Linked DNA regions of Homo sapiens. The protein of the gene in region 3 interacts with the protein of the main gene of each other region in a pairwise test. Each region holds a gene or a part of one and is shown on either strand. Other genes may lie near its edges.

Region 1 (10,385 bases), on a different chromosome or scaffold from region 3:
GGAAGTGTTCAGGGTGTGGAAGTGCAGGGCAACCAAGAGGTGAAGAGAAGGGATTGACTGCCTGGGCAGCACTCTTAGGGGTTGTTTGAGCTTGGGGATGTTTGAGGTGCACAAACATTGCAGAAGGCAAATAGGTGGTTGGGATGGGCTTTGGATTCACCCTAGCGTAGTGTGCTGAGACTGTAATAGTAATGATTATTACACTCATATTGCACTTACCGGGTGCCAGGCACTGTTCTAAGTGCTTTCCATGTGTCCTGCTGAAGCATATGAAATTGCTGATATTTGACCATTTTTGAACCATAAAAACCTCATTTGAACTCATTTGAACCTCACAACAATCCTGTGTGGTAGATATCCCTATATGTCTGTTTTACAGATGATAAAACTGAGATACAGAGGGTAGTGATTTGCTGGGAGAAGTCATAGCAAGTAAGAGACAGAGCTAGGATTTTAATGTCTATGGGGTCTGGTCCAAAGTCCATGTTCTTTTTTTTTTTTTGAGACGGAGTCTCACTCTGTCGCCCAGTCTGAAGTGCAGTGGCGCAATCTCGGCTCACTGCTACTTCCGCCTTCTGGGTTCAAGCGATTCTCCTGCCTCAGCCTCCTGTGTAACTGGGACCACAGGTGCGTGCCACCACGCCTGGCTAATTTTTTGTAGTTTTAGTAGAGACGGGGTTTCACCGTGTTAGCCAGGATGGTCTCTATCTCCTGACCTCGTGATCCGCCCACCTTGGCTTCTCAAAGTGGTGGGATTACAGGCGTGAGCCACCGGGCCCGGCCATGCTCTTAACTGCCTCACTCTGATGCCTCTCTAAAAGTACCCCTGTTTCACAGGTCTCTGTGTATGTTAGCAGATATTTACTATAGTACCATAGTGATCCAATTATGAATGCACACTAGTTATGTTTCTTTCTGAACTATGTTCGTTCGTTCTTCTTGGTTTCTTTCTCCGAGGCCTTGGTTTAATTGAAAAGAGGATTAGGAATCTGAGTTTTGTTTCCCCCTTTGCCTTGTCTTACATAATCTTGAGCAAAGGACTAAAGTTTCTTGGCATGCTCATTCCTGTACCTTTTGGATTTTAAAAAATGTATTAAAAGCACAAGAGAAGAGCATTGCAGGACTGGGTTCTGAAGTGGCTGGTGATTCCCAGCTCATTGTAACTAGTAGATTGCCTAATTTGAAGCAGATCAATTTTATTATCACGTGTATCAGTTTATCAGGACAAGACAAAGTGTCATGGAGTGGGTGGTTTAAGCAACGTAAATTTATTCTCTCACTGTTCTGAAGGCTAGAGATCTGAAATCAAGGCATTGTCAGAGTTGTTTCTTTTGACGCCTTTGCTTGACTCGTAGATGGCCATCTCCCTGTGTCTCCATGTTCTTCCTTCTGTACCTGTCAGTGTCCTAATCTCCTCTTATAAGGACACCAGTCATACTGGATTAGGGCATGCCCATATGACCTCATTTTATCTTAATTACCTCTTTAAAGGCCTTGTCTCCAAATACAGTCACATTCTTAGGTGGTGGGTATTAGGACTTCAGCATATGAATTGGGGTAAGCTGGGGACACAGTTTTATTATGTAAGATTTTGTCCATTTATCATGTATAGTTGTTGTAATCCATATCAAATTCTGTGTGGAAAAAGAAATAGTTACACATAAAATGAACTTTATGGGAGTTCTGAAATGGGAGAAAGCTTTGAGAATTAGCCAGACCTGTAAGTGACTACTTCATAGACACCATTACTTGTGTTTGGAAAGATACAGGTGTCTTTTCAGAAATTCAGATGGCATGTGTTTCCAATAACCCCAGTGCAGGAAATGCCCTTTGTGTTCGTGAGTTTGACATTTGTGTGTGTGTGTGATTAAGTGATGACAGATTGGTGTCTCATATAGGAGTTAATAATTTTAAAAAATGAGTTGCCATTAGATTAATGTTATAGTGGAAGGCGTAGAGTGCATTCCTGGGATGCTGGCCATCCACATGGCCATCTGACTTAGGAGAGGAGCATCCACCAGTATTTGGTCCATGGATGCTCTGTTGATCAGGCTTGTTCATTTATGAGCAAGTGCTGAAACCGTCTGGAACCTGGGGAAGTCCCAGATAAGAGAACTGTATTATCAGAGTCAGGCTGTTTTGGTAATAGTGTTTTTTCTGTGAAGAGTCATGGTATAAAATATTATTATGAATCACTTATCAAAATATTTTTATAGAAATGTTGATAATTCAGTAATACTTCTTAGGTGAAATTCTGTTTTATTGTGATAATTCAAAGATTGCTGATGAAATTCGTGATTCCCATCATTACATTTGTGAATCCATTTCACAAATATATTTTGACCACCTCTTGGTTATCAGGCACCAGAGATGTAATAGCGCCTTAAGTTCAAGTTGTTTTTAATAGCCCCGGATCAAAAACAAACAAAAAAGCACTTAGATTGTTTCAAAGATGTATTCGAGCCGTCATATGCTAAATGACGAGTTAATGGGTGCAGCACACCAGCATGGCACATGTATACATATGTAACTAACCTGCACATTGTGCACATGTACCCTAAAACTTAAAGTATAATAATAATTAAAAAAAAAGAAAAAAAAAGTTTGTCAAAGTATTATCAGAGGTTTGCAGCTGTCTATCTCAAGGCAGTGGCAATTTCCTTTGTTATGCTGTGGTCCCTGAAGTAGTTGAAATAGTGACTTTTGCATTTTGTAAACCACAGAGAGTCAACACTTCAAAGAAACATACTTGATCTTCCTTTGTATAAGCTGTTTATACAACTTTGATTATACTTGAGAAGTGAGGTATTGTCCAATGTTTATACAATTACAATTCAGGACTTTACCAAAAAAACCCTGGCATATGAGATGTTCGTTCTGACTTCTGAGTTTATAGAAGTTTCAGTTCTGAAGTTTAAGAGGAGTTTCACTTCATCCCTTTTCATTTTGAAGGTAGGAGTTTTTATGATGTCATTGGTATTTAATTTTTAGGACCTTTTGATTTTCAAAGGTCACTGTGATCATTTTGTTCTGTTGATATCAAGTTAAGGCAGTTTTGACTTGGAGCAGTTCTCCATTTCTCTAGTTTATAGTCCTTGATATTCATAAACTATAAGATTGTCCTTCTGAGATCAGTGTTTATTGGTAGATACACTTGATGTGGTCAGGGTTTTTGTTGGTTTGTTTTATTTTTTGTCTTCTAATTTTAATCTGTTTTATTTAGGAAGGTACACATTTGTGTGTGTGTGTGTGTGTGTGTATGTGTGTGTATTTAAGTCTTTTGTTGTAATAATTGATATTATCCAGCTAGTCTAAACCTTTTTTTTTCTACAAAGAGGTCTCCAGTGTGACTACTTCCATATTTCACCGTTTCCTCAGCTCTCTATTCTTTGTTGTTCTTTGTAGTTTCAGGAAGCCATTGTGTAGACTACACACACACACACACACACACACACACACACACACACACACATATTCCTTGGCAAGTTCCTTCTTTAAGCTCATTAGTAATTTTCAGAGATCTCAGAGTTTTAAAAAAATGTTAATTTATAACCTCCCATGTTTGTTATGATTGTCTAGCATAGTCAGAAATCTGAATTATCTGGAAATTGTGAGCAGCCAAGTACCTTTGATTTTTGGGACTAGTCAAAGGTATGTATCTACTCATAGGAAGGTCTTTGTGAGAATATCTGAAACTCACAGCTGCCTAGTGATTTTTCACTTTTGATCATATCTAAATGTACACTTTCCACTTTCTGTTTCTGTGATACCTACAGAATTTATGTGTTTTGACAAACTTACAAAAAACTTGCTAATGGAAGAGCAAAGGTTTCCCGTGTCTTCCTTAGTCTGCAGTCCAATTCATAGTTATGTTTCAATTCATAGTTACCTTACATTAAACACCTTTTCTGAAGAGATAATTACATCATTTTAATTCATGAAATCTCAAGATTTAAATAGATTTTGAAGGATACATCGAATGCTTGAATCTACAGCATTTCAGCCACATGACTTTTTTTTTTTTTTTTTTTTTTTTTGAGACAGTCTCTCTCTGTCACCCAAGCTTGAGCGTAGTGGCGCAATTTCGGTTCACTGCAAACTCTGCCTCCTGGGTTCACGCCATTCTTATGCTTCAGCGTCCTGAGTAGCTGGGATTACAGGCATGCGTTACCACGCCCAGCTAATTTTTTTGTATTTTTAGTGGAGACGGGGTTTCACCATGTTAGCCAGGATGGTCTCGATCTCCTGATCTCGTGATCTGCCTGTATCGGCCTCCCAAGAAACCTTGTTTCTTAAAACAGTCTTAACTAGTGAAGTCTGTATAGAGAAGTTCCTGAGATGCTAATTATAAAAAAAAGATATATTTTATGTTCTAGTTCCTAGCAAATAAAATGTATTTTGTGTTTATATTTCTTTATTCACAGGCAGCTGAAAAAGTTGGATGAAGATAGTTTAACCAAACAACCAGAAGAAGTATTTGATGTCTTAGAGAAACTTGGAGAAGGGTGAGTGTAAAGAAACTATAGGTAGGTCATTGGGTCCCAGTCTTTTTCCTGCCCCAGAAGAAGCAGAAGGATATGAACCTTTCAGCATTGTTCTAGGTGGGGTGGAAGGTAAATTTACAGCTTGTGATGTCCTTCTTCGCTTTACTCCAATCCCTATTATAGACAGATTTAGTGATTCCTGGTCTTTTTAACACGAAGAATATCTATTGTTTTCTCTTTTGTAGGATCTGTATGATTTTATCTACTTAACAGATAGCACTAATTAGATTAAAATTCTATAAGAAACTTTTTAATTTGCTGTTCATAATTTCTGATTGGTATGCAATAACTGTTTCAATGAAAATCAATGTAATTTAGTATTTTAATATTTGCACCTTTGTGAAATATAGTAAATAAATTAAGCACTATCACCACCTTCACAGCTACTTAGGAGATCCACAATCCTGGGTTGGGAGCCAGTGGATTTCCTGAAACACAGATTTGTTAATGCGTTTATAAAATACTGATGAAATGATATTAGTAATGTGCAGTGACCATCATTGACTTTCATGATACAATTAAGTTTACATAATTTTTATACTTTTATATATCATTTTAATTCAATCCTGTGTATTTATTCCTTCTTCTGTAATGACCAGGAAATTAAAATGTTAATGACACCATTTCTTAAGTTTTTCTTGTTAATTTTTGAATAGGCGATACAATCATATGATTCAAAATTTAAAAAAATATTAAGACGCATACAATAAAAAAAAAAAAAAACTGCCTCCTACCTCTCTCTGTCTCTTAGCCACCCAGAATCACCAAGGGTAGCGGCTTCTTGTGTGTCTTTCAGAGACAGGCTATGTGTGTGCGAGCGCACACTCGTGTTTGTGTGTGTGTGTGTCTGTATTTTTAATCCCTTGGGAGTATTTCTGGATCAAGGGAAGACCTGACATACTAACTTGTAAAAACAACTACTGACTGATGACTATATGCTCTTTAAAATAATTTCCTTTATGTCATTAGATTATTTTTTGGGTTTAGTATTTTTTATGTTAGGAGACAGATTTACAACGTTAAACCCAATCCTGGATTACATGAAATGGTTTTTTTATGATTTACCTCCTTGTAAAAAACATGAGTCATCGTCTTTTTGTAAGTTGGAAAAATACTCTTTGGAATCCAGCAAGAAATCAAGCAGAGAAGGGAAGTAAAAATGACACACCAGCTGTGCTGTGAAAAGACAAGTCCAAGATGAATCTGAAGACTGCCAGTTGACTGGCATCATTAAAGGTATGGGGAAATGACAGTCCCTCTACATCTGTTGCCTGCCATTTTCAGCTTTAGCTTGCCATCCTTGCTATTTTCCCTAAGGCAGCAAGGCTGTGACCTTTAATCTAACAATGCTCATAAGTTATACTTAGAATAAGTTCAAGACTGATAGGCATAATTGACTATGTAACTTATTTCTCTCATTTCTAATACAGTTTGCTCTTACTACTACAATGTGAGGCTGACCTGGGTTAAAATCCTTGCTCTACTGTTTACTGGTCATAATAGACAAGTGGGCTTAAGCAAATTGCTTACTATTTTGGAGGCTCACAATCCTCATCTGTAAAGTTGGGATAATAATATATCAATTCATAGAGTTGTGTTATTACCTGAGGTAATTGGGGTAAAGTATAGTGCTTATCACAATAATAAATGTTCAGTAAGTGGCAACTATTGCTATTCTATTTTAAATGTATCAACTGAAGCATTTTCAAGACCTCATCATGTCAAGTCTTAAAGTATTTTTAGGTGTTGTTATAGGTAGCTCTGAGCTGATTGGGTTTGTGGAATGTCAAAGGAAGACTATAGACAGAGAATATATCAGAAATATAATGTAAACAAAAAATAAGCTAATTATGATTTTTTAAATTGTATTTTATTTATTTGTTTGTTTATTTATTTTTGTAGAGACGAGGTCTCACTGTGTTGCCCAGGCTGGTCTTGAACTCTTGGCCTTAAGTGATCCTCCTGCCTCAGCCTCCCAAAGTGCTAGGATTAGAGACGTGAACCACTGCACCTGGACAAATTGCGTTTTAGATCTATGGATGTCTTCTGCAAGGAATGTGGAAATTTCCCTATGAAGATATCACCAGGGAGAAAACAAAGCTTCAGATCTTTCTTCCCATACTATCACCTTATTGTTCTTCTAAATAATACCAGATTTCTGGTATTTCTTGGATTTCTGTTATTCTGACTGAATGAACCTAAGCAAGCCTCATTTAACTAGGAATATTTTGAAGGAAGACCTTCACTGCACTTCTTTTCCAAACATGTGACACAATGCTATTCTTTTTTTTTGAGATTAAGTCTTGCTCTGTCACCAGGCTGGAGTGCAATGTCACAATCTCGGCTCACTGCAACCTCCGCCTCCCAGGTTCAAGCGATTCCCCTGCCTCAGCCTCCTGAGTAGCTGGGACTATAGGCACACACCACCACGCCCGACTTATTTTTTGTATTTTAGTAGAGATGGGGTTTCACCATATTGGCCAGGATGGTCTTGATCTCGTGATCTTGTGATCTGCCTGCCTCAGCCTCCCAAATTGCTGGAATTACAGATGTGAGCCACCACGCCTGGCCAATGCTATTCTTAAATTGTTCGGGAGGATGAATGGTTTGTGAACTCTCACTGACTTGTATCTTGTGAAATGAGCTATGGCTAAAAAAACTGTTGGATTCTGGAGGCTGCAATCATTCTGTGTTATGAGGATCATATGGATCTGTGGCAGAGTAGAGCCAAAGCTCCAGACCAGGATGAGTGGAGAGCACTTGGGAAGTGTTTTCAAGTGGAGCCTAGCACCTTTTTTCTTCTACTTAAAGTTGTACACATTGACTCATTTGAATTTTTATCATAGAATGATAACAAAAGCATCTTGCCCATGGTTTCATAAAAAATGAGTGCTATTGTTAAGACTTGTATCTGATTAATTTGGCCTCAGATACTGTGGTATTTCCATTTTTCTACATAGATCCTTGCCTTGCATGGCTTATGTAAAACACCTACTTCTCCATTCTCTGCTGTCAGTTGTAATTCATTGAATCATCTCATTTTGTTGTAGGGAATCAAGTTTTAAGGGACTTGCTTGTGAGTATGATTGCTGAAATCTTCTAACCACCCCCTATCCCTGCCTTCAGATTACTGTAGATGCAGTATATGGAATCAGGAATCTTAACTTCATGTGAGCTATTGGAGTTTTCCTTGCTATCAGGATGCATAGGGAGGTATGAAGAGTGTTCTGGTCAAGATTGCTGAGTGAGTGTATGAAGAGAACTTTCTAATATATAAGAATAATGAGTGAAAATTATTTTAAATATAAGGATATATAGACAGCTATGGACAAGGGATAGGAAAGAAATCTAAATAATCAGCGGAGACTAAAGCATGCCTTATCCTTGTCAGGAGATTGCATTTGAGCTTCCTGCATGAAGTTGGGGGCTGGAACTCGGCTCTCCATCTGTGAACTAAAGCTGAAATAAATTTGCCTGACCACAACCAGAAAGTGTCATTTGCCTGTGGCCTAGGGAAAAAATGGATATACTGGTTCGATAATAGGAACTGAGCTTGGATTGTATTTAAGTATGGTATCTTGAAGGGCAAAAACCCCAAACTCTGAATATAAGACCTGGTTTAAGTTGTATATCCCAGACTACTGTACTGAGAAAACCATGAAATCATCGACAGTGAGTGTGGTATAGAGGAAAATCATTCAAGAGAAAATGAAATCCATGCAAGGAAATCTACTGCCATGAGATAATCAGCAGAATGGGAGAATTCACACTGAAGGAAAAAGAAATAATGAAGCAATCTCAAAAACAATTTAATATAATTACAATTTTCAAAAAGATCAAGGAGGAGATAACATTTTTAAAAGGACATCAGATTATTGACATGATTATTAACATATTTGCCCAAAGGCAGATAAAAAGTTGGGAATCTTGACAATGAAAACTACAACAATTGAAGTTTTAAAAGCCCAATAAATTGGATAAACAGTAAACTAGACAAACTGAAAGGAGAATTTGTGAATTGAAAGATAGAAATGAGACTGATCACAACATGCAGAAATACAGTGTTGGAAACCAGGAAGACAACATAGATTGAGGAGGTCTAATACAGTTTTGGTAGGAATTCTAAAAGAAGATCCTAGAAGTGGTAGAGGAAATAATCACATAATAATCCTGAGAGTTTTTCATTCTTGAGGAAAGACACGAGCCCTCAGATTGAAGAAGTTTATGAAGTGCCAGATCAACTCCTAGTTACATTACAGTAGAATAGTAGACTGTTAAGGACAAAGGAAACCTTAAAAACTATGGGGAGATTACCCATGGAAAATGATAATCTGATAAAAGCTGACTTCTCAGCCACAGTCGATGTTGGAACACTGCAACAACAGTGCTGAGGGAAAGCTGTTGTCAATCCGGTATCCAACCAAACTATCATTCTAGAGTGGAGGTGAAATAAAGACAGTTTCAGACATACAGGAGCTAATTTATCAAGAATGCCTTTGGATGGAAGTAACAATACCCAACAAACAGTGGCTAACCAATAAAGACATTAAGAACTAAATAATACATCTGGGGGTGTGAGATTCGAGAAGCCGTTAATTGGCTTGACAATGGTTTGACATCTGGGTAATTCTCGTAGTCTCAAATGGCTGCATTAGTTTCAAGCATCATCCCTCACATGGCAGTAACCAAAGAAAGAAGGGAAGTGGCAGGTGGAAATGGGCCTTCTTGTGTGCTTGTCTCCTACCAGGGAAGAAAGTCTTTCCCAGAAACCTTTCAGCAGAATTATCTTCAAATTTCAGTGGCCAGAACTGGGCGACATGTTTGCCACTAGTTCAGTCACTGGCAGAAGGGAATAGGAATTCTGTGAGTGGCTTGGACTACCATGGTATATCTCCTGGGACGAAGCACATCACCACTGTAACAAATTAGGAAGTTATTTTAGCAAGGAAGAAGGGACACATGCTCAACAGTTGCCTCTCTCTGGCAAAAAGTATTTGGTGTAATATTTAAGGATGATTATGCTAGTTTTGCAAGTATGACAGCTTCTAATGGAATGGAAATATTTTTATGTGCTCTGCATAGACTTAAAAAGTTTTATGTTACTTTCACATTGAAACAGTTCATGAGCATCTATTTGGCAGTTAGAGTATTGTACTTTGACATAGTAGGTGGCACTGCTATTTTGATTTTTTTTTTCACCAAGACAGTGTGAAGATACAGATGTGTTGGGAAATATGAAAGACAGTTTACTCAGTATTATTTCACTGACAGCTGCCCAGGATTCCAATGAAAATGTTATCTGTATAAAGTGATGATGGTATCTCATTTGACCATCACAAATGAGATACCATCACATCTTGTAAGGTAGTTTGTATTATTGTCATTTTACAGATGAGAAAATTCAGGTACAACAAGGTTAATAAGGTGTAAATGATAGCTAAATGTAGTGTTGGTAGGACTCAAATCCAGCTTCTTTACTTTCAAAATCTAGTGGATCTGTAGCCTCCAAATTGACTAGATACACAAACTTTATTTTGATATTAAGCTGTTAAGGGAAGATGGAGTAGGAAGCAAAGAGTGTGTGTGCTGTGTTTACCTGATACTAATATTAAACAGGCTTAGATTTTAATTAGTTTCCATAATATTTTAAGTATTATTGTAAGTAAGAGGAGCAAGGACAGAAAGATCTTGTGGTACTAGAGTGAATACAATAAAACAAAGACTGCCACTTCCATATTGTACCCCAGTATAGATGGGGAGACAACGTAAGCTTTGTTTTCAGACACACCCGGGTTCAAATCCTGGACTGATAACACAACTGGTTTCAAATCCTGGACTGAT
Region 2 (10,385 bases), on a different chromosome or scaffold from region 3:
ACAAAATCTCTCAGCCTTTGCTTGTCTGTAAAGTATTTTATTTCTCCTTCACTTATGAAGCTTAGTTTGGCTGGATATGAAATTCTGGGTTGAAAATTCTTTTCTTTAAGAATCTTGACTATTGGCCCCCCTGTCTTCTGGCTTGTAGAGTTTCTGCCGAGAGATCAGCTGTCAGTCTGATGGGCTTCCCTTTGTGGGTAACCCGACCTTTCTCTCTGGCTACTGTTAACATTTTTTCCTTCATTTCAACTTTGGTGAATCTGACAATTATGTGTCTTGGAGTTGCTCTTCTTGAGGAGTATCTTTGTGGCGTTCTCTGTATTTCCTGAATTTCAATGGTAGCCTGCCTTGGTAGGTTGAGGAAGTTCTCCTGGATGATATCCTGCGGAGTGTTTTCCAACTTGGTTTCATTCTCCCCATCACTTTCAGGTACACCAATCAGACATAGATTTGGTCTTTTCACCTAGTCCCATATTTCTTGGAGGCTTTGTTCATTTCTTTTTATTCTTTTTTCTCTAAACTTCTCTTCTCACTTCATTTCATTCATTTGATCTTCCATCACTGATACCCTTTCTTCCAGTTGATTGAATCGGCTACTGAGGCTTGTGCATTTGTCACGTAGTTCTCGTGCCTTGGTTTTCAGCTCCATCAGGTCCTTTAAGGACTTCTCTGCATTGGTTATTCTAGTTAGCCATTTGTCTAATTTTTTTTTCAAGGTTTTTAACTTCTTTGCCTGGGTTCGTACTTCTCCTTTAGCTCGGAGTAGTTCGATCATCAGAAGCCTTCTTCTCTCAGCTTGTCAAAGTCACTCTCTGTCTAGCTTTGTTCCATTGCTGGTGAGGAGCTGTGTTCCTTTGGAGGAGGAGAGGCACTCTTATTTTTAGAGTTTCCAGTTTTTCTGCTCTGTTTTTTCTGCATCTTTGTGGTTTTATCTACCTTTGGTCTTTGATGATGGTGATGTACAGATGGGGTTTTGGTGTGGATGTCCTTTCTGTTTGTTAGTTTTCCTTCTGTCAGGACCCTCAGCTGCAGGTCTGTTGGAGTTTGCTGGAGGTCCACTCCAGACTCTGTTTGCCTGGGTATGAGCAATGGAGGCTGCAGAACAGTGGATATTGGTGAACAGCAAATGTTGCTGCCTGATCGTTCCTCTGGAAGTTTTGTCTCAGAGGAGTACCGGGCTGTGTGAGGTGTCAGTCTGCCCCTACTTGGGGCTGCCTCCCAGTTAGGCTACTTGGGGGTCAGTGACCCACTTGAGGAGGCAGTCTGTCTGTTCTCAGATCTCCAGCTGTGTGCTGGGAGAACCACTACTCTCTTCAAAGATGTCAGACAGGGACATTTAAGTCTGCAGACGTTTCTGCTGCCTTGTTTGGCTATGCCCTGCCCCCAGAGGTGGAGTCTACAGAGGTAGGCCAGCCTCCTTGAGCTGTGGTGGGCTGCACCCAGTTTGAGCTTCCTGGCTGCTTTGTTTACCTACTCAAGCCTGGGCAATGGCAGGCGCCCCTCCCCCAGCCTCGCTGCCGCATTGCAGTTTGATCTCACACTGTTGTGCTAGCAGTGAGCGAGGCTCCATGGGTGTAGGACCCTCCAAGCCAGGCGCGGGATATAATCTCCTGGTGTGCCGTTTGCTAAGACCATTGGAAAAGCACAGTATTAGGGTGGGAGTGACCTGATTTTCCAGGTGCCATCTGTCACCCCTTTCTTTGACTAGGAAAGGGAATTCCCTGACCCCTTGCACTTCCCAGGTGAGGTGATGCCCCGCCCTGCTTCAGCTCATGCTCAGTGCACTGTACCCACTGTCTTGCACCCACTTTCCGATACTCCCCAGTGAGATGAATCTGGTACCTCAGTTGGAAATGCAGAAATCATGTGTCTTCTGCAATGCTCACGCTGGGAGCTTTAGACTGGAGCTGTTCCTATTCAGCCGTCTTGTCTCCATCCCTATTTATTAGTTCTAATAGGTTTTTTTTGTGGAATCTTTAGAATTTTCTACATATATGATCATATCATCTGTGAACAGAGATAATTTTACTTCTTTTTTTCCAGTTTGGATGCCTTTATTTGTTTTTCTTCCCTAATTGCTCTGTCTAGAACCTCCAGTACTATATGTAACAGAAGTATTAGGCTGGTGCAAAAGTAATTTCGGTTTTTGCCATTACTTTAAAAAAAAAATGGCAAAAACTGCGATTACTTTTGCACCAACCTAATAGCATCCTTTCATTGTTCCTGATCTTTGTGGAAAAGCTTTCAGTCTTACTGCTTTGAGTATGACATTTACTTTGGGTTTTTTGTATATGGCTTTTACTATGGTGAGATAGTTTCCTTCTATTCATATTAGTTGTGTGTTTTATGAAAAGAAGTTAAATTTAATCAAATGCTTTTTCTGTTTTCATTTGAAATGATCATGTGGTTTCTTCTCCATTCTGTTAAGGTGGTGTATTGCATTGTTCGATTTTGTATGTTGAATCAACCTTGCATTCCAGGAATACATTCCAGTTGGTCATAGTGTATAACCTGTTACAATCCTGTTGAAGTGAGTGTGCTATATTTTGTTGAGGATTTTTGTATCAATGTTCATAAGGGATATTGGTCTTAGTTGTTTTGTGGTAACTTTGTCTGGCTTTGATATCAGAATAATGCCTCTTAAAATGAGTGTGGAAGTGTTCTCTTTTCTTCAGTGTTTTAGAAAATTTGAGAAGTTGAATCAAGATATTTTAATCTTTTTTTTTCCTTTTTGTGGAGTGTATGTTCCCAGATAGCCATTCACATGGTTGGCCCCATTATATCATTTAGACTTCAGTAAAATGTCTTTTGGGCCTTCTTGAATGTCAATCTAAAGTAGCTTCTCAGTCGTTCTCTATCAGTAGCTCTCTATTGTTGTCCTCATAGCAATTTTCACAGACATTTTCCTGTGTTATCCTATTTTCTATCAAATTATCCCGTTGCTTATAGATAGAATATAAGCTTGAGAGCAGTCCCTAATCATTTAGAATTTTTATGGTTGATTCTGTTACATAGGCATGATTGATTAAGTCTTTGGACATTTGTGCTTAACTAAATCTCTACCCCCTCTCTCCTTGCAGCCCTCCCGTAAGTCAGGGGTCAGGCAGAAATTTCCAAACATCTAATCACTTGGTTGGTTTTTTCGGCAACCAGCTCCCATCCTGAAGCTATCTAGGCTCCCACCAAGAGTCACCTGATCAGTATAAATTCTGGTATGGTTGAAAGGAGCTTATTATGAATGACAAAAGACAGCCCCTCTCACTCTTGTGAGAGGGTGAGAAAACAAAGATAAAATATCTTGATTCAACTTCTCACTCACTCAGTCAATTCACAGGGTCTTAGGAGATTTTGTGCCAAGAACCTACAAAGACCAAATATTTCCTGTGATTTCATAATATCACACTACCTTACAAGGTTGTTTTAAGAATAAATGAGAGAATGCATGCATAACTCTTAGCACATTGCCTGGTACAGATAGCAGTGGCTCTACTGCTACAACTGTTAAGAAGATTTTCTTTCTTTCCCATCCGTCTCTTCCTCGGCCTTCTCTACTCTCCCCTTTTTCCCTCCTCTGATAGTCTTTGCTTGTGTTTCCATTTTCCTAATCTTTCTCTGACGTTTTTTCTTCTGAGTTCTCAATATTAGGTCAGAAGTCCAGAACTTGGAAGGGTTAGGAGTGGCATTGGTGTAGGAGCTTCTCGCAGAAGATTCATTGCAAGCCTCCCTCCCTCATTTACTTTCCTTTATGTAAAGCTGTTGGTTTCATTTTCATCAAGAATCTGAAATATCTCAGGGGAAGTATCTGAATTTACTTTTTCAGAACAGATATTAGCTGTGATAGTGCCCTCCCAGTATTAGAAGATGTGGGAAATCACTATTATGATTCCTTATATCAGGCTGATTCTTGAGATATGTTGTTTGCTTTAGGAATGATACTGATAATTTTTTTTTTTTTTTGAGATGGAGTCTCGCTGTGTCGCCCAGGCTGGCATGCAGTGATGTGATCTCAGCTCACTGCAACCTCTGCCTCCCAGGTTCAAGTGACTCTCCTGCCTCAGCCTCCTGAGTAGCTGGGATTACAAGTGCACGCCATCACGCCTGGCTAATTTTTGTATTTTTAGTAGAGACGAGGTTTCACCATGTGGGCCAGGCTGGTTTTGAACTCCTGACCTCAAGTGATCTGCTCGCCTCAGCCTCCCAAAGTGCTGGGATTACAGGTGTGAGCCACCACGCCCTGCTGATACTGATAATCTTAAAGAGAGAAATTTGATCATCCTTTCATTAGTAAAATGTGTAATAAGAAAGCTTATTGTGGGAAGAAGAGGTTCTCGATTATTTACCCCTTTAGCATTTTCCTGGAGGTTTAGCGGTCATTAGAAAGAAGTACTTGTGGCTAGGCATGGTGGCTCACACCTATAATCCCAACACTTTGGGAAGCTGAGGAAGGAGAATTGTTTGAAGCAAAGAGTTCAAGACCAGCCCGGGCAACATAGCGAGATCCCCATCTCTACAAAAATAAAAATAAGTTAGCCTATTGGGTTGGCATGTGCCTGTAGTTCTAGCTACTCGGGAAGCTGAGGTGGGAGCATGCCTTGAGCCCAGGAATTTTAGGCTGCAGTGAGCTATCATCACACCACTGCACTGTAGCCTGGGCAACAGAGTGGGGTCTCTTAAAAAAAAACACACACACACACACGGAAAGACATACTTGTTACTAGTGCTCTTTCGTAAGATTTTATCTAACGTGGCATTTTAATTATGGTTTTAAAAATATTTCTTTCCAGTTAATAGAAGATGAAATTGCAACCATTCTTAAATCTACATTGAAAGGACTAGAATATTTGCACTTTATGAGAAAAATACACAGAGATATAAAAGCTGGAAATATTCTCCTCAATACAGAAGGACATGCAAAATTGGCAGATTTTGGAGTGGCTGGTCAGTTAACAGTAAGTTAACTTTAATGGTTTTCTAAACACTTGGCTAATTTGTTCAGATTTGATTATAACTAAACTTCAATTACTTTTTGAGGGGGAATGGAAAGAAATGTGTAGTTTTTTAATTTTTGTGGAGAAGGAACCATAATTGAGCCAAATTTGAGTATTATTTAATTTATAATTTAGGGTGATTGAATGTGAAAATATATCTTATAATCAAAATGCTTAAATGTTCTAAAAGGGAAGCTACGTAGCTCATTTCTGTAGCTTTTATCATTGTAGCACTATCTTTAATGACTGTGTTTAATGATGGTAGTGTGGATAAGTTACCTGTGGACTCTTGGTTATTTTCAGAATTCGGAATTCCTAAGTATGTCATAACTAGTTGAAATTTTAGCAAAATAGTCAATTTCTGATATAATCTGTGGCATTGGAGGTTTTAACATTTTTTAAAAGTATGTTTGGCATACAGATTTCCTTTGTGCTTTTGTAGTAGCATTTATGGCTATGTAACATTATTGCAGGATACAATGGCAAAACGCAATACTGTAATAGGAACTCCATTTTGGATGGCTCCTGAGGTGATTCAAGAAATAGGCTATAACTGTGTGGCCGACATCTGGTCCCTTGGCATTACTTCTATAGAAATGGCTGAAGGAAAACCTCCTTATGCTGATATACATCCAATGAGGGTAAGAAAATTATGGTTTGCTGAAAATGTTAGCCTTATATAAGTGTTGCCGTTTTGTAATGTCAATGTAAGTAAATATAAACTAAATAAGTTCATTTAAATGTATTCTTTTTAAAAATGGTAAAATTACCTCTTAAAGATTAGTAACTGTTAACTTCTCTTCCTTCTGCATTCTTAATTGTGAGAAAAGAACTGAAGGCTTTGTATATCTCTACCATCACTGTTCTCCTCCCCCAAAAATATACTTGTAAAATTTTTGCTTGCTTTTCAATAGAAGAAAGGGTTGGTAAATCCTCTTTGCTCTTCAGTTTATTGTTTTCTTGATTGTGGTAGTGAAAGAGTTGGAAGTAATCATTTCTCACTTTTTTACCCACTCTGTGATTTATACCTTACTGTGTGTTTTTTTTTTTCTGCCTTTTCTCTTCTTTGGTCTGAGGATGGTATTAAGCAATCCTAATTTCTAATATTACTATGCACATATAAAGGAATTCGGCTAATTTTTTTTAATGAATGCATGCTGAGAAAATGGAATTCCTTTTTTGAACATCATTATATGCTTCTGTGAACTCTGCAGGATAATTTTTGAGTTTGAAATATATATTTTGCATATTCAAGTCTAATTGCCTGTGTTTCAGGGTTTGTGATGATATACTTTTTAGGTTTATTACTATGTGAATCATATAGATAAGTTCATCATCATAAATAGGTACACTGATCTTTGTATACTTATTGCCCTCTAGTGGCTGTAGTTATCTCAATAAGGATGTAGGAATGAGGGGAGGAGTGTATGTATGTGTGTATTTGTAGAAAAGAGAAGATAATATCATGGTGGCTGGAGGAATGTGAAGTAAATAGATAGAAAGAGGAAGAATGCATAAAAATTCAGATATTTTAGAATATCTGAAGAAGAATAAATTGGAATTACATCTGATATTATAATGCCATTGTGGGTTAAATTTCGATAATATAGGTAACAGTGTATTATACAGAAAATATTTAAAAATCTGTCTGCTGTATTGAAACATTTTAAAGAGAGTTTTTTTTTTTTTTCTTTTGAGATAAGGTCTCACTCTGTCACCCAGCCTGGATTGTAGTAGTGCGATCATGGCTCACTCGAGCCTCGACCTCCTGGGCTCAGGTGATCCTCCCACCTCAGCCTGCAGAGTAGCTGGGACTATAGGTATGCACCACCATGCCCAACTAATTTTTTGTAGAGACAAGGTGTCGCCATGTTGCCCAGGCTGGTCTCCAACTTCTGGGCTCAAGCGATCCGCCCACCTCAGCTTCCCAAAGTGCTGGGATTACAGCAGTGTGCCCAGCCTAGAGTTCTTTGAGTAATGTAATTGTATACAATATGTATCATCTTCCTGGTGTATATAAATTCCTTTTGGTAAATGAAAGATAAAAATGCATCAATTGTTTGAAAATAACTTGAAAAACAACAAGGTCAGCATAAAAACAGGAACACAAAGTCTTATTTCATCTCTGATCATTAGTTATCTGTGGTTCTTTTAGTTAGGATGTTTGTAGGGTGATCCTCAAAGTAGGTGTATTTGAGTTTGAATCAGTGAGGTTTACTAAATTACCCAAGGCAACCTAGGTAAGTACAAGAGCTGGGATTTAACTTAGGACTTCCATTATTACTATTCTGCTTCTTCCCTGTGTAAATCTTATTTTTCCAACCAAATAGTTCAACATGTTAAATTTGATCCTGTGCTCAGATAGCAGAGAATTGTAATATGTGGCCTCTTCCTTTAAGGATCTTCTAATATTACCTGAGAGTTTGAATGAATACATTATACATTATTAAAAATATACCTGAAAATAATATTTCTTTTAGAAAAAAATATACCTGTATTGCAAACTTCCTAGGATGCCTTGCTCACTGTTTTTTTTTTTTTAAATCTAAATCCTACCAGTTTTTCAAGTCCCAACTTGGATTTTATGCCTGTGTAGAGCCATTCTTGACAGCTATCGCCCAAGTAAATTTCTCTTTTTCCTCATATTTTGTATATAGGCAATTTCTTCACAGTCCAGTTCTTTGGACAGTTAATCAAGTGTTGCCTCGTGCATTTCCAAACATAATATAGTTTATTTCCTATTTAAATAATATCATTATTTAACTTTTCTTGTGTTTGTGAGCTGTCTTACAAAGTAGAGTATTGAACTGCAAGTATTGGAAGCTGTTGAGATCATGTAACAGATAGTTTTATCACTGGTAACAAGTACTGCCTTTTGTTTTCCTTGAAATGACAGGTTCACTTGGTTCCTTTTTGAGAAAATGTCTGTCAAATACCCAAGTCTGTGTAACCTTAGTTTTCTGTTAGTTATTCTTCAAGTAAAAATGATGTTCTTTGAAAAGAGCCTTGTAGTTTATTTAGCTTGCAGCTCAGTCACACAACTGCTTTTTTTCAGATTATTGTTGTTCTTTGATATGTGGGGAAGTGCTTTATGCATATTTTCCATTTTGTCAATGTAGAATATTAAAAATACATATTCAAGTGTAGAAATTTAATAGAATTAATAAACTTTACTGTTTCATCAAGGTTTACAGTAGTTTTGTGGGGGGTATAGTGAGGGCAATGAAAGAAAGAGCTGTCCAAGAGAGAAAAATTGTTGAGGGCCCAGCTAAAATTGGTAATTGGGAAAGTATAGTGTAATTAATCCTGGTTTGTGGGCCTTCCTATGGTAGTGTGCTCTGCTGTGCAGTAGAATGCATTATGGCCTTGATATGGAGGGTTTGGGTTTTAATGAATGAGTGTCTTAGAAGGATGGGGCTATAGGGAATTTAAGGATGCTGCTGAGAGACAGTTCAAGGGGTTACTAACAGGGCACAGTCTGGAAAGAAAAGAGAGAGTGTAAGGAAATGGGGTGATCAAAGAATAGGTAGTGTTCTCCATGCTTGCTGCATAGCCGTCATGTGGGGAGCCCTACCCTAAACAGATTAAATCAGAATCTCAGGAGGTTAGAGAGGAGATAAAGTGGTAGTTAAGATATGAGAAAGCTGGTAGGATATGACACTATGGTAAGTGAGTGAAATATTGAAGTTTTTTACCAACATTTTTTTTTGTACTGTAGTAATTTTGTGAAATAAATATTTTATCCTCCATTGGGTGGATTGGATGAAATGGATAAGATTATGTTATTTAAGATGACATAACTTGTCAGTGGCAGAACTGAGATATGAACTCAGTTTGTTCTGTGTTTTTGCCTAGACACCAAAGAAATATCCTCTGTGTTAATATCCCAACTCAGTGCAAGTGGAGGAGCGGCTAACAAAAATAAGACATTTTAAAACCATGTAATCACAATATTATAATTACTGATTTAAAATCTGAACCCTCTAAGTTTTCCAGAGTAGCAGGAAATATGGTAACCTAGGTAAGATTTCAATTTTTAAAGTTTTGTTTTCCAGCCATGTTTTGGTAGACATATAGGCTAATGAGGTAATCAATAATCTACAAAGTTGCCACAATGAGACAAAGATGTGATTGACATGAAGACCCCACAGCTGATAACAGGCAAAAAACCTGATAGTTATTTTAATATAAGTAAATGATACAATTTACTACATATACATGGCTATCTAGAACAAAGTTAGAGACAAAGTTAGGATGTGGTGGGTGAGTTTCCCCAGCCTCCATCTATAGTGGGGTGCCCAGCCACTGGTGGTATTGCCTAATTGGAGTGAGGATTCTAGCCAGTCTTTCTGAAATGCCTTGCATTCATCCTCACAGAGTTCTAGCCCTTTCCACTATGCCTGCCCACTAGCTGTATATAATTAGGAACACTCCAGAACAGTGGTGCTGCCTTGTAGACTGAGTGAACTGGGATTTGGTTTCCCAGTCATTTTCTCAGCCTTTTACCGTGTTTAGGTACCAGGCCTGTTTGTAAAGTAGTATTGCTTAGGCCAGCAAAAATTAGGGGCAAAAAGAGATGCCTTGAGCTTGGATAATTTAGAATGGAGTTGCTTCTCCTTAAGTGGCCACAAATTAATACTGTTTTTCACTGATTAAGGTTTTTGTAGGACATATATTTAGGGTGTCATAGTCTGAGGGATACGAAGAACTTAAAGATGGCACTAAATTAGAAAATGAAAGTGGTTAAATTGGAAATTTGCAGTTATTTGAGAATGGGTCTTTCAAAGGTGTTAAGTCTGAGGTCATTTGTTTTATATGCTTTAGTTTATCAGTTTGTCAGAGATTGATTATTTCTTTTATCATTCCTGGGCAGAATAAGGAATATTTGGAATATAGATGTTCAAGGAGAAATTTTCTAATAAGAAGAACTATTAAAAACACTGGATTTGTTTGATGGCAAGGAGTTAACCAAATTTGTTAGTTTCCATACAACTTTTTCTTCCCCCCAAAGAAACTTGTAGTATATGTAAACCGAATCTTCACTGTGGTAGACAGTAATGATTATCTGTTTAGTAAAGGGAAATGATGATGTACACATTGAAACATATAAAGCTTTTAAACAGGAGAGGGATAAAAGTGCTTATAAATTTATATTCAGCTATGAGATTAAAATTAGTGAGTAGTGGCAAATGGGAGTAAGTCTAATCAGAATGTTAAGTGAAACAAATTTTTTTAAATTAAAACTCAGTTTATTTTATAAAGTTAAATATGAAACCACCAAATTAATTTTGATCAGTTAGATAAATAGAATAGTTAAAAAAATTTAGTTTTGAATTCAGTTAACCACATACTTTTGAGGAGATCAGTCTTCTCTTTTTCTCAGGCCTTTAGGAAGTG
Region 3 (10,385 bases):
AGACACCCCCAGTCTATCCTCGATGCCGTCAGCCTTGGCCATCTTCACTTGCCGCCCGAACTCGCACCCGTTTCAGGAGCGTCATGTCTACCTGGACGAGCCCATCAAAATCGGCCGCTCAGTGGCCCGCTGTCGACCAGCGCAGAATAATGCCACTTTTGATTGCAAAGTGCTATCAAGGAACCACGCTCTCGTCTGGTTTGATCACAAGACGGGCAAGGTAATGTCACCACATTGTCCAGCGGCATTGTTTAACAAACTTTTTTTCCCCTTTTGCCCTCCCTGAGAGGACTAATGTATGCAGGATCCCAGGGTTTGCATCCAGAGGAGGCTTTGCGCAAAGCCACGAATCAACTGTTTGTGTGCCTGGTTCTAGTGGAAATTTGATTGAGGTGGTTGAATGGAAAACAGAGAAGGTATTGTAATTAAAAGCCTCAGGAGGGCTATGGCATCTTGATAACGTGGTCATTCCCAGTGAAATCCCAAACTAGATAGTGAAACTTGGCGTCTTGCTTTTAGTCTGTTTAGAAAGGTGAATTCACAGTTCAGCGCTTTATTAAGCAAGCAGCAGTTCTCGAAGCAATTCGGGGAATCCGTGGCCATTATTATCCCGGGGCTCAAGTGTCTTAGTGGTGAAATGTAGTTAACACATAGCTTTAGGTGAGTTCAGATCAGGACCTTTCTAGTAAGGATAATTGCTGATATAAACCTAAGATTTTTGAAAGGTTTGATACATACTTGCCCTTGGAGGAGTAATTTGCAATAATCAAAGCTAATTTAATTAAGCATGAACAACTGTAACTTTATATATTTTCAGAGTTTTTTTTACAAGTTGGAGAACATACACATATTGCGTTTGAAAATCACTTTTTGATGTTCCCTGCAGCACTTATTAAGTACTTAATGCATACTTACAGAGGTGCTATTCAAAAGTTAGTGTTAGGAAATAAACTTACTTTCTGAAATTATACCCTATTCTGTCAATTATAGCATTACTTAAATGTGATACGATGAATTCAGTGCTTTTCATTTTAAGCGTAACCAATTTAGTATTTTTATGTTAGTATCGTAAGTTACTATACATGTATGTGCTTTTATTTTAAGAAGTGAAGAAAGAAATTAAGATCCTTTCCATTTTTAAAAACTGTTTATTTATGTTTGTGGAGAGTATACTAAAGAGCTCATCTTTGTGCCTAAACCTCAGGTTTTTAGCTGAGCTACTGAATCAGTTCCAACTTTAAGTTATGTAAGACTAATAGGACTGTCTCAGGTTTCACCTCCTGACTTTTTGCCCCTCTTTCTGAGTTAAATAATTAAATCTTTCTTAAAGGAAGAACTTAAGTCTTCAAGAATATGTTTTGAAATGAAAGAAACCTGAGCCTCAAAAGGAAGAGAAAAAAATGATACTTCGGCAGCTACTGATTTAAGGAATTATTTTGTAAATTATTTTTTAAAGAAAGGAGGAAAAGATTGTCCAAGTGCTGTGTGCTGCATAATATCTATACTTTACGTGTAGGATGAGAACTGAAGAGTATGTTAACTTTTCTGTTTAACACCAGATCCTCATTTACCTGTGGAACAGACCCTTCACTCGCTCCTCGCAAGCTGAAGTTAGGGTGCCTAAAATACTTCATAGATTACTCGTAATCCTTTTTTTTTTTTTTTGAGACAGATTTTTGCTCCTGTCACCCAGGCTGGAGTGCAGTGGCGCTATCTCAGATCACTGCAACCTCTGCCTCCCGGGTTCAAGTGATTCTCCTGCCTCAGCCTCCAAAGTAGCTGGTATTACAGGCACACGCCACCATGCCTGGTTAATTTTGTATTTTTAGTAGAGACAGGGTTTCACCATGTTGGCCAGGCGGTCTTGAACTCCTGACCTCAGTTGATCCACCTGCCTCAACCTCCCAAAGTGCTGGGATTACAGGCGTGAGCCACTGCACCTGGCCCTCATAATTCTTTAAAATGAATATTCATAGAACTCATTTTTCCAGCAGTTGAATTCAAACATCAGTTTACTACTAAGTAGTGCCTTAACTCAACCAGCTTTTACATTTTCACCATTTTATGTTCTTGGGCAACAGGTCTAAACTAATCAGACAACAGGTTGGCTCACAGTACATACTCTGCGAATGCACTTTCTTTGATGAAACACTCGAAGGGGACTCCCATTTTTTGTTTTACTTATTTGAAAAATACTGATTTCATGCCCAGTGCTTTCCATGGCTGTACTAAAACTCTCACAATAGGTTATTTTGAGATAACTAAGAATAGGTCAGTAGTGACTGTTTCATGAATTGAGATGACATGTTAATATTTGTTTTTTTTCTTTGAGATGGAGTCTCGCTCTGTGGCCAGGCTAGAGTGCAGTGGCGCAACCTCAGCTCACTGCAACGTCTGCCTCCTGGGTTCAAGCGATTCTTGTGTCTTAGCCTCCTGAGTAGCTGGGATCACAGGCGCATGCCACCATGCCCAGCTAATTTTTATATTCTTCGTAGATACTGGGTTTCACCATGTTGGCCAGGGTGGTCTTGAACGCCTGACCTCAAGTGATCCACCCTCCTCGGCCTCCCAAAGTGCTGGAATTACAGGCATAAGCCACCACACCCGGCCATGAAATTAGTTCTTCAGAAAAACTTATCTTTGAATGGTAGATATGGCTTATTTCTACCATTTTCACTTTTTTCCTCCTGCTTTATTAGCTAAAATAACACGCAGGCTATGAGACCACTACTTTAGATATAGATGTAATTATTGATTATTATACCACTTAATCTAGTTATAGCGGATGCTCTGTCAGATCTTACCATGTCATTGAATTGTTTTAGGAATTAACTATTTAAAGTTTTGGTTTGGACAGATAGTAGGTTTTAATTGAGCATCTATTATGTGCCAGACACTGTGAGGGATACAGTTCCAAAGAAAACCCACAGTGCGACCAAATAGTTCTCGTATGAAATTTGCAGTGTCTGTAGTCCCACCTACTCGGGATGCTGAGGCACGAGGGTTGCTTGAGCCCAGGAGTTTGAGGTTGCAGTGCTGTGATTATGCCACTGCACTCCAGCCTGGGTATCAAAGCAAGACCCTGTCTCTTAAAAAAAAAAAAAGAATCCCTTCAGAGAAGGAGTTTCGTTCTTGTTGCCCAGGCTGGAGTGCAATGGCGCGATCTTGGCTCACCACATCCTCTCCCTCCTGGGTTCAAGTGATTCTCCTGCCTCAGCTTCCCGAGTAGCTGGGACTACAGGCATGCGCCACCACGCGTGGCTAATTTTGAGTTTTTAGTAGAGACAGGGTTTCTCCATGTTGGTCAGGCTGGTCTTGAACTCCCAACCTCAGGTGATCCACCCACCTCAGCCTCCCAAAGTGCTGGGATTACAGGCATGAGCCACCGCGCCCGGCCAGGTTTTTTTTTTTTTTTAAACATCTGGGGATGATAATGGTACCTATTATTGTTTTGAGAATTGAGGTAATTATATAAATCACTTAGCACCCTGTCCCTGGCTCTTACTAAGCACCCAATACTCAGCAGAGAGGGTGTTTAGTGGGGAAGAGGGAACTATTTAGACAACACTGTGCAATTTGCTATAGTGCTATGGAGTCTTAGGAAGGTGATGAGAAATTATTTTCTTTAATGTGATGGCATATATAGAATAAATTTTGTTTTTGTTTTTGTTTTTTGTTTTTTTGAGACGGAGTCTGGCTCTGTCACCCAGGCTGGAGTGCAGTGGTGCGATCTCAGCTCACTGCAACCTATACCTTCTGGATTCAAGAGATTCTCCTACCTCAGCTTCTCAAGTAGCTGAGATTACAGGCATTCATCACCATGCCTGGCTAATTTTTGTATTTTTAGTGGAGACAGGGTTTCACCATGTTGGCCAGGCTGGTCTCAAACTCCTGACCTCAGGTGATCCACTTGCCTCGGCCTCCCAAAGTGCTAGGATTACAGGCATGAGCCACTGTGCTTGGCCAGAAGAAATTTTTAAAATTGAAACTGATGTAGTTGATAACTTTGTCTAAATTGGCAGTTTACCTGGGCGGTCGACAATTGGGGTAATATGTGCTTTGGGTGACTTTCACTTTGTGGTGACTGTTGCATTCTGCATTGTCCATTATGGGAGGCTCATTAAAAGTTGGAAGAAGGCCGGGCGCGGTGGCTCACGCCTGTAATCCCAGCACTTTGGGAGGCCGAGGCGGGTGGATCATGAGGTCAGGAGATCGAGACCATCCTGGCTAACAAGGTGAAACCCCGTCTCTACTAAAAATACAAAAAATTAGCCGGGCGCGGTGGCGGGCGCCTGTAGTCCCAGCTACTCGGGAGGCTGAGGCAGGAGAATGGCGTGAACCCGGGAAGCGGAGCTTGCAGTGAGCCGAGATTGCGCCACTGCAGTCCGCAGTCCGGCCTGGGCGACAGAGCGAGACTCCGTCTCAAAAAAAAAAAAAAAAAAAAAGTTGGAAGAAATAGGCCAGGCTTGGTGGCTCATGCCTGTAATCCAGCACTTGGGGAGGCTGAGGCAGACGGATCACGAGGTTAGGAGATCGAGATCATCCTGGCTAACACGGTGAAACCCTGTCTCTACGAAAAATACAAAAAATTAGCTGGGCATGGTGGCATGTGCCTGCAATCCCAGCTACTCGGGAAGGCTGAGGCAGGAGAATTGCTTGAACCCGGGAGGCGGAGGTTGCAGTGAGCTGAGATCGCGCCACTGCACTCCAGCCTGGGTGACAATGTGAGACTCTGTCTCAAAAAAAAAAAAAAAGTTGGAAGAAATAATAAACACTTGAAACTTTATGATTATTCAAATGATACATGTTCATTTTAGAATATCTGCAAAATGTAGGCAGGTGGAAATCTAAGTGACACTTTTTAATGCTAAGCTCATGGAATATCTTATTGTATAATACTTAAATCTGCATGTTGAAGGGTGACAGGTTTGGCACAAAGCAGAGTTTCATAATCTTTACCAAATCATCTTCTCAGTAATGTAGCAGTTGGATATTGCCTTGTTGGATGCTGGCCCTGTGTATTATCCTTCATCCTTTTCGGAAGTCAAGCTCTTCAAATTAGATGGCAGATAGTAGAATGGTTTTTTTTTTTTTTTTTTTTTTTGAGCCGGAGTCTTGCCCTGTCTCCCAGGCTGGAGTGCAGTGGCGCAATCTCGGCTCACTGCAACCTCTCCCTCCTGGGTTCAAGTGATTCTTCTGCCTCAGCTTCCCAAGTAGCTGGGATTACAGGCATGAGCCACCATGCCCAGATGCCTGGCTAATTTTTTGTATTTTTAGTAGAGACAGGGTTTCACCATTTGGCCACGCTGGTCATGAACTCCTGACCTCAGGTGATCTGCCTGCCTCGGCCTCCCAAAGTGCTAGGATTACAAGTGTGAGCCACGGTGCCCAGCCTAGAATGGTTATTAATTCCTCTGTTGATTCAAGGCACCACTGAGCAAGCAGATCTACCCATATAGTGGTTACATAGAAAGGATAGTGAGTGAACTCTTGTGATTTGGATGGCCCTATTTGATTTGAGGCTTTGGGGTACCGGTGACATGCTAGTGGTTGACATAGTAGTCTATTTCCAGTTTCACTGAAGTTTACTTACTAGTGGTAGTAGTTGTCTACTTCTAGTCTCACGTTTAATTTAAACTTAGTGCATCTTTTTTTTTTTTTTTGAGATGGAGTCTCGCTCTGTCACTCAGGCTGGAGTGCAATGGTGTGATCTCGGCTCACTGCAACCTCTGCCTCCTGGGTTCAAGCAATTCTCTTGTCTCAGCTTCCTGAGTAGCTGGGATTATAGGCACACACTACCACGCCCAGCTACTGTTTTTTATTTTAGTAGAAACGGGGTTTCACCATGTTGCACAAGCTGGTCTCGAACTCCTGAGCTTAGGCAATCCACCCGCCCCGGCCTCCTAAAGAGTTAGGATTACAGGTGTGAGCCACCGCGCCCGGCCTAGTGCATCTTTTTGAGCACCTGTTCTATCATGATTTGTTTTAGTGAAGGGCATAGTGGTAAAGGGGGAGAAAATGACAAACTGATGAGGATTTGTTATTTCTTCTTTCTAGGAACTTTTACATTGGATAGAGAGGGTGACAGTGCACTTTGAAAATAGTTGAGATAGGTGATATTATGTAAGTTTCAATGGCAAAAGAATAATGACATTTGACTTTAAAATTAGGGGTGGATAGATAAGAAAAGGTGTTTTTTTGGTTATTTTTATTTTTTTTGTGGGGATGAGGATGGAATAAAAAGCAGATAATTTTGAATGAGCTTTGCATTTTCCAAATGCTGAGGAAACTGACTTTGTTGGATTAGAGAGTTCTTTGAAGAGTAGCCAAGGGTGCACATCTATTCTGTGTGATGTTCTTGTTTGTGCCTTGTCTTTGTAATTAATTTTCACACTCTGGAAGACAGGAACGTTTTCCTACTATCTTGTATAAAGTAGTTGTTGAATAAATGAAGCTGACTAGATAGTGTGGTGCCAGGTTGTGAAGTGCCTTGCTTACCAAGCTTAGGATGTGGACCCTTGGGTTATGGAAGGCCTACGAGAGTTCTGAGCAGAGCACTGACATACCAAACCCCTGTTTAAGAAAGAGTGGGCCGGGTGCGGTGGCTCACACCTGTAATCCCAGCACTTTGGGAGGCCGAGATGGGTGGATCACCTGAGGTCAGGAGTTTGAGACCAGCCTGGCCAACATGGTGAAACCCCACCTCTACGAAAAATACAAAAATTAACCAAGTGTGGTGGCATGAACCTGAAATCCCAGCTACTTGTGAGGCTGAGGCAGGATAATCACTTGAACCCAGGAAGCGGAGGTTGCAGTGAGCAGAGATCCCATCTTTGCACTCCAACATGGGCAACAGAGGGAGACTGCATCTCAAAAAAAAAAAGAAAAGAAAAGAAAGAAAGAGTGATACAATAGTGATACAATAGCAGTATGTAGAGTTGCCTGGAGCAAGGAAAAATGGGTAACAGCTTAAATAACACTTTTGTACTAACTATATACTGGGCCCTATTCTAAATGCTTTACTTGTTAACTTATTTAATCTTCAAGTAACTCTTTGAGGTGCTTGTTTTTTCTGCATTGACCTGTGAGGAAATTGAGGCACAGAGAGATCTTGGTCAAGTTCACCTAGCTATTAAATGGTAGAATTGAGATTTAAACTCAAGCTCATAACCACTGTGCTATTCTAAAGGCTTTATAACACTTTAGATATGATGTGATTTTGTGAGGGCATAGACCAGGTTAACAGTAGGAATGAAAATGATTAAATGCCAGAAAATGAAAAAAGATAAGAGTATTAAATTAACTTGCACATTAGGACTTCGGCAAAGCGCAAGGTCCTGTGTGAACTGAAGACTTTAGGGAAAGTTTAATGGATGAAACAGTTTCATGGATGAAATCCAATTTAAACTAGACCTTAGGACTTTTAAAAAGAGGAAGAATGGCCAGGAACAGTGGCAAATGCCTGTAATATCAGCTACTTGGGAGGCTGAGTCTGGAAGATTGCTTGAGGCCAGGAGTTTGAGGCTGTAGTATGCCAAAATTGCACCTGTGAAAATCCACTGCACTGCAGCCTTTGCATCATAGCAATAATTTGTCTCTAAAAAACAAAAAGTTCAAAAACTTGTATTTGCCAGGGGTGCATCAGGTCTGTAGCCCCACCTATTTGGGAGGATGAAACAGGAGGATCACTTAGGCCAGGAGTTCAAGGCTATAGTGCACTATGATTGCTCTAGCCTGGGTGACATAGTGAGACCCATCTTAAAAAAAAATATGGGGTTAAGGGATAGATTGTAGTTAGGGTCAGTCAGGGAAAGGAGTTTTGGGTGGGAGGAAGAAGCAGGGATGATACGGCATGTTCCAAGGACATTGTAAGGAAGACATTGTGAAGAGCCTGCTGAATTTGACAACCAAGATTGTTTCTTCTTTTTTCCTCCACACATCTAAACATGACCACAAAGATCCTAGCCTCAGCTTTTGGGAGAATGGCAGGTCATACATTCTTTTACTTTTTATTTGTTTGTATGTTTGTTTTAACAGATACTTAAGTTTTTTGTTGACAGAAGTATAAAGATCATTAAGGGGTGCTGGTGTTTGTGAGAAAGTCTTTTACTTGACAAGTTGTATTTAAGACACATAATGTGAACATGTATAGGAAGCCAGATTATATCTTTAAAGCACATGTTCATTTCCCTCTATATTATTTTTCATAATAGTGGGAAATTGATAAAATATTTTATCTGTGATTTCAAATTGTTAAAAATATCGACAGTGTATATACTTAAAGCATTTTTTTTCCCACTTAGTTCTTTGACATTACTCCTTAGGTTAAATTCACTCTTTGCCCTTTTAGGCTTCTGTCTGATTTTCTTTCTTTTTTTTTTTTTTTTGAGACGGAGTCTTGCTCTGTTGCCCAGGCTGGAATACAGTGGCGCGATCTCGGCTCATTGTAAGCTCCGCCTCCCGGGTTCACGCCATTCTCCTGTCTCAGCCTCCTGAGTAGCTGGGACTACAGGCGCCTACCACCACACCCGGCTAATTTTTTTTTTTTTTTTTTTTTTTTGTATTTTTAGTAGAGACAGGGTTTCACCGTGTTAGCCAGGATGGTCTCGATTTCCTGACCTCGTGATCCGCCTGCCTCAGCCTCCCAAAGTGCTGGGATTACAGGCGTGAGCCACCACACCCAGTCTACCTGTCTGGTTTTCTTAAGTGATATTTCTGCTAGAGCTTAGTATTTATTCTTTTTGGTAAGTAGGGAAGAGAATGTCATTTAGAGTTTTAAGTGAAAAGATTGTGAAGTTAACTCTTAATATATGTCAGTTACTTCATAGTTACTTGAATCAAGAAAAATGGTGGCATTTATTAGCGGCTGAAACGTTCTAAGTTTACAGTCCAGACTCTTTCCTCTTCTCAGGTACATGCTTCTCTTACTGACACTATATAGGTAGATAAATAGTTACACCTTTGCTTAAAAATCTTTGACGTTGCCTCATTAATTTTTAGCATTAAAATCTATATCTTATTTTCTTTTTTTCTAGCTCTCTCTTTTATTACTGTTTTTTCTTCACCCCAAACTTTGTGTACTAGCTGTATGACAGTGTTCACTGTTTCTAGAACAAGTGCCTTTTTTTGCTGTTTTGTCTTCTAGAATGACCTCTTCTTGTCATCCCTTAAGGCTCAGTTCCAATGTGAAACCTTCCCTGACTCCCTTTAACTGAAGAATTAATTGCTTCTTCCTCTATACTTCCATTTAACTTTGTGTATAATTTCTTTATTTCTTTTTTTTAAATTTATTTTTATTTTTATTTTTGAGACAGGGTCCCTCTCTGTCACCCAGGCTAGAGTGTAGTGGTGTGATCTTGGCTTACTGCAGCCTCCACCTCATGGGTTCAAGCAGTTCTCCTGCCTCAGCCTCTCAAGTAGCTGGGATGACAGGCACCCCCCAGCACACCTGGCTAATTTTTGTATTTTTAGTAGAGATGGGATTTCACCATGTTGCCCAGGCTGATCTCGAACTCCTGGCCTCAAGCAATCCACCTGCCTCAGCCTCCCAAAGTGCTGGGATTACAGGTGTGAGCCACTGCACCCGGCCTGTATATAATTTCATTATGGGACATAAACAACAAAATAACTATGATGCAAATGTACTACTGTCCCATCAGATGTGAACTCTTGAGAGCAAGAGAATAGGCACTACATTCATGTTTGAATGAGGGAAATGTGAACAATGGAGCGGTTTGTATTTCTGCAAACCTGTGCAGTGTTAAAGGGCAGAAAGTCATTCAAGTTAGTTCTCAATTTGAGATCATGGACTCAATTATCAATATGTAGTCTTTGTATAAGTCATTATTTATTGAGAGCTTGCAGTTTGCAAAACATTTTGCTAAGTGTTTTTGGATCGTAGATCCAAATCTTGTGATTGGTGATATGAAATTATATATATGAACTATTACAATTTCACACAAAATAATTTTAAAAGGTTTTAGAATAATCAGAGTGCTTTCTTGTTTCATTTGGTCTATATAACACTCTTAGAAGGTAAGTAAAACAGCTGCAGTCTGGCTCGCTTTTGTCCAAAAAGAGTTTGATGTTTAGAGGTTATTTGTACAAGATCATCTAGTGGTAACTATGGGAGTTTTTTTCCCCCCAAAATGAAAGCCAACTATTAGACATTTATTCTGAACTGTCTTCTTAGGGACTGAGCAATTATTATGAAAATCTGTCTTTTGCTCTCTTGAAAGGTAATCTAAGCTATTGCTTTTTGATGTATAACCGAAACTTGTCATATTACGGACTTTCAAAGACTGAAATAACTCAAGTTAATTATTTCTCTGAGTCAGCTAACATTTTTAAAAACTTACCTCTACTACTCCTAGAAATACAATATT

The links.
Region 1: the proteins of SLMAP (region 3) and STK4 interact in binary tests that used the Homo sapiens proteins (3 or more experiments, as listed by UniProt).
Region 2: the proteins of SLMAP (region 3) and STK3 interact in binary tests that used the Homo sapiens proteins (3 or more experiments, as listed by UniProt).

The regions. Positions count from the first base shown.
Region 1 is NC_000020.11:44,967,654-44,978,038, forward strand, and holds part of STK4 (serine/threonine-protein kinase 4), read left to right. Parts: exon of another isoform or gene 1-2,952; intron 2,953-4,424; coding exon 4,425-4,505; exon of another isoform or gene 4,506-5,267; intron 5,268-5,629; exon of another isoform or gene 5,630-5,780; intron 5,781-6,446; exon of another isoform or gene 6,447-7,680; coding exon of another isoform or gene 7,681-7,757; exon of another isoform or gene 7,758-7,759; coding exon of another isoform or gene 7,760-7,788; exon of another isoform or gene 7,789-8,031; intron 8,032-10,385. UniProt on the Homo sapiens protein: Stress-activated, pro-apoptotic kinase which, following caspase-cleavage, enters the nucleus and induces chromatin condensation followed by internucleosomal DNA fragmentation.
Region 2 is NC_000008.11:98,701,711-98,712,095, reverse strand, and holds part of STK3 (serine/threonine-protein kinase 3), read left to right. Parts: intron 1-4,784; coding exon 4,785-4,949; intron 4,950-5,461; coding exon 5,462-5,629; intron 5,630-10,385. UniProt on the Homo sapiens protein: Stress-activated, pro-apoptotic kinase which, following caspase-cleavage, enters the nucleus and induces chromatin condensation followed by internucleosomal DNA fragmentation.
Region 3 is NC_000003.12:57,757,630-57,768,014, forward strand, and holds part of SLMAP (sarcolemmal membrane-associated protein), read left to right. Parts: 5' UTR 1-22; coding exon 23-220; intron 221-10,385. UniProt on the Homo sapiens protein: Associates with the striatin-interacting phosphatase and kinase (STRIPAK) core complex, forming the extended (SIKE1:SLMAP)STRIPAK complex.